2 linked regions of the Homo sapiens genome follow. The protein of the gene in region 2 interacts with the protein of the main gene of each other region in a biochemical or structural test. Each region holds a gene or a part of one and is shown on either strand. Other genes may lie near its edges.

Evidence for each region. The genes of interacting proteins can lie anywhere in the genome.
Region 1: of the proteins of PTPRK (region 2) and PDPK1, one has a biochemical effect on the other in vitro, tested with the Homo sapiens proteins (one large-scale study listed by IntAct).

The regions. Positions count from the first base shown.
Region 1 is NC_000016.10:2,544,521-2,548,165, reverse strand, and holds part of PDPK1 (3-phosphoinositide-dependent protein kinase 1), read right to left. Parts: intron 1,339-3,645; exon of another isoform or gene 1-1,338. UniProt on the Homo sapiens protein: Serine/threonine kinase which acts as a master kinase, phosphorylating and activating a subgroup of the AGC family of protein kinases.
Region 2 is NC_000006.12:128,518,396-128,522,140, reverse strand, and holds the start of PTPRK (receptor-type tyrosine-protein phosphatase kappa isoform b precursor), read left to right. Parts: upstream 1-1,541; 5' UTR 1,542-1,782; coding exon 1,783-1,882; intron 1,883-3,745. UniProt on the Homo sapiens protein: Regulation of processes involving cell contact and adhesion such as growth control, tumor invasion, and metastasis. Negative regulator of EGFR signaling pathway. Forms complexes with beta-catenin and gamma-catenin/plakoglobin.

The sequences.
Region 1 (3,645 bases), on a different chromosome or scaffold from region 2:
AAAAGGTCTCAGAGTTTGGATGCAAACCCAGCCTCCCAGCAGAAGCCAGCTGTATCAGGCGAGTGCAGGCCGCCTAGAGGTCCTCCAGGCCCACACGAAGAGCGCGTCCCACTCAGAACCTCCCCCACTGGAGGCCGATTCCCTGCTCAGGCAACCCAGACCTCCCCGAGTCGCCACCCCAGCCAGGAGAGCTCCTCCCCTGCTAGTCCACGTTGGGGCCCAGACTCTGCCCGGCTCTCTGAAGCAGCCCCACAAAGGCCGGTCACCCTCTCCTGCTCAGACACTAACTACCCTCCCTCTATGGGCACCATCTGCAACGGCCGTGCTATTGACTGTTTCCCTTCTGCCCCTGGGGCTCAGAGAGGGACAGGAGCATCAGGTGGACCGTCCCCCTTCAAGCTGTAGAAGCCATCTTTTTCACACAACATTTCCTCAGGCCAGGAGCATGGGGCCCGTTCTGTTCATAACCACTTTTCCTAAACCAACCGGGGCCGTCCTCACCCTTTCTGCCCCAGGCACAAAGCTCAGCGCCAGCAGCATCTGCACAGGAGAGCTTGCTAAGATTTTTTTTTAAGCATCATTTTGAGCTTCCGACTTTTTACGGAATGAGAACGCAATGCGTTCACCAAGAAAATCTATATTCAGATGCACATTTTAAACTAGATATCTGATAATAACCAGGTACGTACATACAATCAAAAGACTGTAATTCTGACCGATGGAAAAAAGCCATGAAAGACAAATGCCAGCCTGCAGGAAGAACATGTGAGTTACCCATGGAAAAGCAGCCGGAAGCGCTCCGAGCATCTGAGCGTCTGAGCCCGTGCTCTGAAGGAGCTGTGTACTCCCTCAGCCTGGCGTCCAGAGTCAGGCCCAACTGGGAGAGAGAAACGCAGACGAACCTAGCGCTCGCCCTCAGGAAGGACCCCCTGATGAGGTCCACATGGGGGGAAATGAGCAGCCGTCAGCCTTCCTAGCTCGTAAGTTGGGAGCCTGCTCACTAACCTGCCTCCCCAGGGTCTGGCTGCTGCGGCTCTCCAGATCAAACCTTCCCAAGAACAGGGCTGAGCAAAGCCAGCGCTCCATTCTTCCAAAGACTGATCTGTCCCCATCCTTTCCCACAGGGGAAGTCCAAGCAGTGCTGTGTGCCAGCCAGCACTGGCACACGGTGGGTCTGAAGGTCAATTAGCCCCGCCCCCACCGAGGTCGGAGAGCTCTCACTCACTGAGCCCTGGGCCTGGGTGCACAGCGGGGACTCTGAGACAGGTGGGCTGCTGAGATCCTCACTGCTGGGCTCCCCAAGGACCATCAGTCACACAACCATCCTGCGGATATAGCTGCAGCTCTACAGGTGGCTGCACCCACCCACAGAGCACACGTCCCTTTTGCCGCCACAGGACACCTTAGAAGCTACAGCAAAGTCAAGGCCTAGGAAAAGCCTCATGGCACCTTGCCCAAGCAGGAAAGAGACCAGGAGAGTAGGGCCCCGCTGTCAGGAAGGAAAAGCAGCTTAAGGTTAGAAGGGCCACTAAGGAAGGCCGGGCACGGTGGTTCACACCTGTAATCCCAGCACTTTGGGAGGCCAAGGCAGATGGCTTGAGGTCAGGAGTTCAAGACCAGCCTGGCCAACATGGTGAAACCCCATCTCTACTAAAAATACACAAATTAGCCCAGCATGGTGGCAGGAGCCTGTAATCCCAGCTACTCATGAGGCTGAGGCAGGAGAATCGCTTGAACCGGGGAGGTGGAGATTGCAGTGAGCCGAGATCGCGCCACTGCACTCCAGACTGGGCGACAGAGCGAGACTCTGTCTCAAAGCACTTTGGGAGGCTGAGGTGGGTAGATCACGAGGTCAGGAGTTCAAGATTAGCCTAACCAAGATGGTGAAACCCCGTCTCTACTAAAAACACAAAAATTAGCCGGGCGCAGTGGTAGGCACTTGTAATCACAGCTACTCAGGAGGCTGAGGCAGGAGAATCGCTTGAACCCGGGTGGCAGAGGTTGCAGTGAGCCGAGATCGCGCCACTGCACTCCAGCCTGGGTGACAGAGTGAGACTCCATCTTGAAAAAAAAAGTTACCTTTAGCTCATCATCTCCTAAGCAGTATTCTTGCCATAAATACTTAGCCTGAACCTAATCTAACAAGGAAACAATGAGACAAATCCAGATTGTGAATCCTGTATTTATATAAAATACGAGACAACTACCCTCATATTTTAAGAAATGCTGGCCAGGTTGCTGTAGCTCATGCCTGTATTCCCAGCATTTTGGGAGGAGCAGGTGGTAGGATCACTTTAACCCAGTCCAAGACCAGCCTGGGCAACAAAGCGAGACCCCATCTGTACAAAAAATTTTAAAAATTATAATTAGCCAGTGCTGGGCATGGTGGCTTACGCCTGTAATCTCACGCTTTGGGAGGCCAAGGCGGGTGAATCATGACATTAGGAGTTCGCGACCAGCCTAGCCAAGATGGTAAAACGCCGTCTCTACTGAAAATATAAAAATTAGCCGAGTGTGGCGGTGGGCGCCTGTAATCCTAGCTACTCATGAAGCTGAAGCAGGAGAATTGCTTGAACCCAGGAGGCGGAGGTTACAGTGAGCCGACATCACACCACTGCACTCCAGCCTGGGGAACAGAGCCAGACTCCGTCTCAAACAAAAAAAATTAGCCAGGTGTGGTGGCACAGGCCTATAGTCCCAGCTACTCAGGAGGCTAAGGCTGGAGGATGGCTTGAGCCCAAGGGAGTTCAAGGCTGCAGTGAGCTATGATCATGCCACTGCATTCTAGTTTGGGCAACAGAGCAAAACTCTGTCTCTAAAAAAAAAAAAGAGAGAGAAAGAAAGAAGAACAAGAAAGAGCTTTGAGGAGGACAGGTGACCACTGAGGAAGGCTGCACGTCACCTTTGCATTAGAAAATGCCACGTTACAATAAAATTCCACCTCTACTAAAAATGCAAAAATTAGCCACGACTGGTGGTACACACCTGTAAGTCCCAGCTACTTGGGAGGCAGAGGCAGGAGAATCACTTGAACCCAGAAGGCGGAGGTTGCAGTGAGCCAAGATCGCACTACTGCACTCCAGCCTGGGCAACAGCACGAGATTCCATCTCAAAAAAAAAAAAAAAATGCAATGTTAATGCTATCTCGGATGTGATGATGAAGAGGTTGTACAGGTGACAGCTTCTGAGCTCAGAAGGCATCTGGAGAAGGATTCTGGGGTGAAATGCTATCATGTGTGTGACTTACTTTCAAATAATAAAAATAATAGAAAAAAATTTTGGGCCAGGTGTGGTGGCTCATGCCTGTAAATCCCAGCACTTTGGGAGGCCGAGGTGGGCGGATCACGAGGTCAGGAGATCAATTCCATCCTAGCTAACAGGGTGAAACCCCGTCTCTACTAAAAATACAAAAAAATTAGCCGGGCATGGTGGCAGGCGCCTGTGGTCCCAGCTACTTGGGAGGCTGAGGCAGGAGAATGGTGTGAACCCAGGAGGCGGAGCTTGCAGTGAGCCGAGATCGCGCCACTGCACTCCAACTTGGGCGACAGAGCGAGACTCCGTCTCAAAAAAAAAAATTTGGGGGAGGTGAGGGGGTAATGTATACAAGCAAATATGGAAAAGGTTAACAACTGGTAGAATCCAGGT
Region 2 (3,745 bases):
TGTCCCTCAGTTTTTTGTTACCTGGGATCTAGGAATGTTCTCTAATTAAAGAAATGGAATGGTGATGGTGTGTTGAAAGGTATAGGTTAATGAGTTAAAAAAAAAAAATCTACATTGCACCCTAAGGAAGGATGAACTTAACTATGCTGAACTGAATTGACAAGGGTTGAGCTAGTCAGTGTGCTAATGAGCAGGCTACTATTCTCATAGAATTTTTAAAAGTCTTTTCTGCCTGATATGTATGTGTGTATAATATGTATTTATATATGTATATATTTGTGTGTATATTTATTACATTTTTGTTTCCACAGGCTCTGTCATAAGTCTGGTCATTAATAGCATATATTTGATTAAAAGAATATGTGGCTTGGTAAATTATGTGAATGTTATATTAAAATGAATTTCACATTGTCTTGATTTACAAAGGCTAAGATGTCTGAGAAACTGAGAGATGTCAATCAACAGACTATTGTTTTAGCAATTGTACATAACACATAAAAATTCTGAATCAAAGTTATTATGTTATTCAATTGTGACCATACCTATTTTTTGTGACATTTTACAAAAATGAATAAAGTATGCACCATACAGTCTTACCACAGAAGTAAGGCAGGGTGGCATATGGCGAAACCACTTCAAGCTGCTGAAGTAGTTAACTGTGAAATATTTTACTGTCATAATATAGCATTATTTTCTGCCAGATGAATCATTCCGAAGAAGCTGTTTTCATGGTCAGTGTAAAAGTCCTTTTGTTAAATACTTATGTCTTAACTACCTACTAGATATTAAAAAAAACAAAACCACACACACACCAGACCTAGGTGCAAGGAAGGGATAATAAGCCCTGATGCAGTTCTTAGGTGAGAACTGGAAAGGGGCCGGAGGGTTTCAGAGCAACAAGCAAAGTCAGTGAAGCAGAGTAAATCCAAATACTTGGCCAATGACAAATAAACCAGAAAGGAGACACGCCAGCTGTTCACGCTGGAAAGTTACTGATCGTTTATTCTGGTTCAAGTTTTATTTATTCTATGAATAAGGGACAAGTTTTCGATGGGGGTGGGGTGTCTTATTCCTTATTACAAGAATAAGGAACGGGGAGTTTTCAAGGCAGGCGGGTGTTTCCTCAGGGCGCTTCCACACTCCCCTTTCAATCAGCAACCGCTCGGGGGGACCTCCACCTTGGGACGGAACCCCAGGACGCCTCTCCTCGGACGGCGGGGGTTTCTCTGCGCGCGTCCTCGGTCGTCTGGTCGCACGGCTTACCGAACTCTCGCCTCTCAAATTCTGAGTTCTGGAACAGGGCAGCGAGCTGCGCCGGCTCCCCTTTCTCGCTCGCTCCCTCCGAGCAGCGGCTGGCGGCGGGGCCCAGGCTGCGAACAAAGGCGGCGCGGGGCGCGCGGCCGGGGCTGGCGCGCGTCTCTCCGGCAGGAGGCGGTGGCGGCGCCGCGCCCGAGCCCGCATTCCTCAGAAGCGCCCGGAGCCCGCGGGGCGACGTCACCCCCGGCTCCGCCCCCGTCCCTCCCCGAGCAAAGTAACTCTTGACTAACAGGAGCAGCCTCCGCCGAGCATGGAGAGCTGCCGCCGCGGCCGGCCGGCGACGCTGGCGACGCTTTCGCCCCTGAGGTAGTTTGGCGACCGCGAAGAAGGAAAAAGGGCGGGCGGGCGGCTGTCCTCTCACCGTCCTCACCCCGCGAGGCCCGGCCCGCTCCTCCGTCGTGGATTTCGCGGCGATCCCCCCGGCAGCTCTTTGCAAAGCTGCTTGAAACTTCTCCCAAACTCGGCATGGATACGACTGCGGCGGCGGCGCTGCCTGCTTTTGTGGCGCTCTTGCTCCTCTCTCCTTGGCCTCTCCTGGGATCGGCCCAAGGCCAGTTCTCCGCAGGTGAGTGGCCGGGGGGCGTCCCCGACGAACGCCTGGAGTCCTGGGCTCACGAGGGGTGAGCCAGGTCCCCGCTAGGGCTGGGGACAAGGATCGTGGGGAGCTCTCTCTGTCCGGGGGTGGGGAACACAGGGTAGAGGGAGGGCTGTCCCCAGAGTTCGTGCCAGGTGGGACGCGGGGCACCCATTGTTCCTCTCCGAAGCTTGCTCGGGGCTCAGGCTGGCACGGTCTAGCCGGAGAGTGTGGGGACCTGCTGGCTTCGGCGTCTCGCGTGGCCTGCGCCGGGCTAGTGGGGAAGAGAGAAAGAAAAAGTAGTTACGACTCCCGTGACGGCACTCTGTTGCTTGTGGTGCGGGTTTGTTGCTGTCTGCCACTTGGGTGTTTAAACAAATTCCCTGGGAAGCCATTGTCAGAAATGTGGAGATTCGAAGGGACTGACCTCGGCGCGCTTTGCCAGGTGCTTTTTGTCCCGGGAATAACCTCCCCTGACTATTGTCTAACTACTTCCCCGTCCCTCCCGGAGTCCCCTTTTCTCCTCCCCCAGCTCTGGGTTGCTCCCGGGCTTGCCCTGTGCGCTCGGGCACTGCTTGGAGCATGTTCTGTGTGTGTGTTGGCGGAGCCCTGTAAGATGTGTTGAAATGCGGTTCTAAGGACCCACTCTGAGCGTTCATGGGCATCGAGGTCTGGGCGCCTGGTGGAGGAAGCCTGACTCGCGCGTGGGAGCCCGCTCCTCGGGCAAAACCACCGCCAGGCTGGCCCCGCGCTCCCCGGATCCGGCCTGGGGCTCTGGCCCCGCGCTCCCCGGATCCGGCCTGGGGCTGGAAGCGGACTGTAAATGTCTGCCTTCTGCCGGAGAACCCAAAAGGAGACAAGTGGAGCGTCTCGCTGTAGCCCTGGGGGTTCTCGGTCAAGCCGCTCAGAGAAGTCCGTGAACCCTGGCTCTCCCGGTCCCGCCCTCTGTTCCCCTCCAGTTTTGTTATCCTTCGTGTAGGTTGGTTGCTTCTTTCGTTCTCTCCTCTGGGGGCTCTGAAGTTTCACCAGGTGGACGCTGGGGAGCGGGCTCCCGAGCACTTGTCTACCTCCCGCCAGTCCTGACAACTTTTCTGGCCAACCTACCCAGCTTCGCTTGGCTGGCGAGCGCATCTGCTGCTGGGGTTCGCGGTGCAGATGGAGACGCAGTGGTGGCCAGAGGGTGATGGAGAAGACGGGAAAAGCGACAGCCACGCTCCTGGCTGAAGCCGCAGGACGCAAATAACTTACTTTGTACCTGACAGTTTCTCACGTTGTTGTGGAGGCCCTGTTTCCTGGAAATAAACTCAAATTGTTGTTTTCTGGAGTAATCGTTTATTTCCCTTCCATTGCTCTCCTACCCCCGCCCCATTTAGAACTCTGTAAAGGGAGTTAAACAACAGATTCAGGTGGCAGCATGTGTCGTACATTCAGGCAGAGATTATGAAATGGCAGCACGCAGAGGAAAAGCCCTGTATATAATTGATGTACGCAGAGGGTAACAGCTCTATGCAAAAAATAATCCAATGGTTTAATTGAATTCTTTCTGGAGTAAGCATTACTGCATGCATTTCTGACATATAATGCCCGTTAGCATTGAAACCGTGCTTGATGTAACTCATTATATGCAGGCAAGTTGGAGTGAGTATTGATTTCTGCACAGTGTTTGTCACTGCACGGAGAGCCTACGCTTGAAAAGGCTTGTAGTTTGTTAATTGAAAGTTTGAACTCTACCAGTTGCATAATTAAACTTACATGTATTCAAGAGTTGCAACTATTAATGTCTCAACAGCGATGGATATATTTTCAGCAGTTAGAAAACTTTTTCTCTTTTTAAATGTTATTTACCCTTTAATT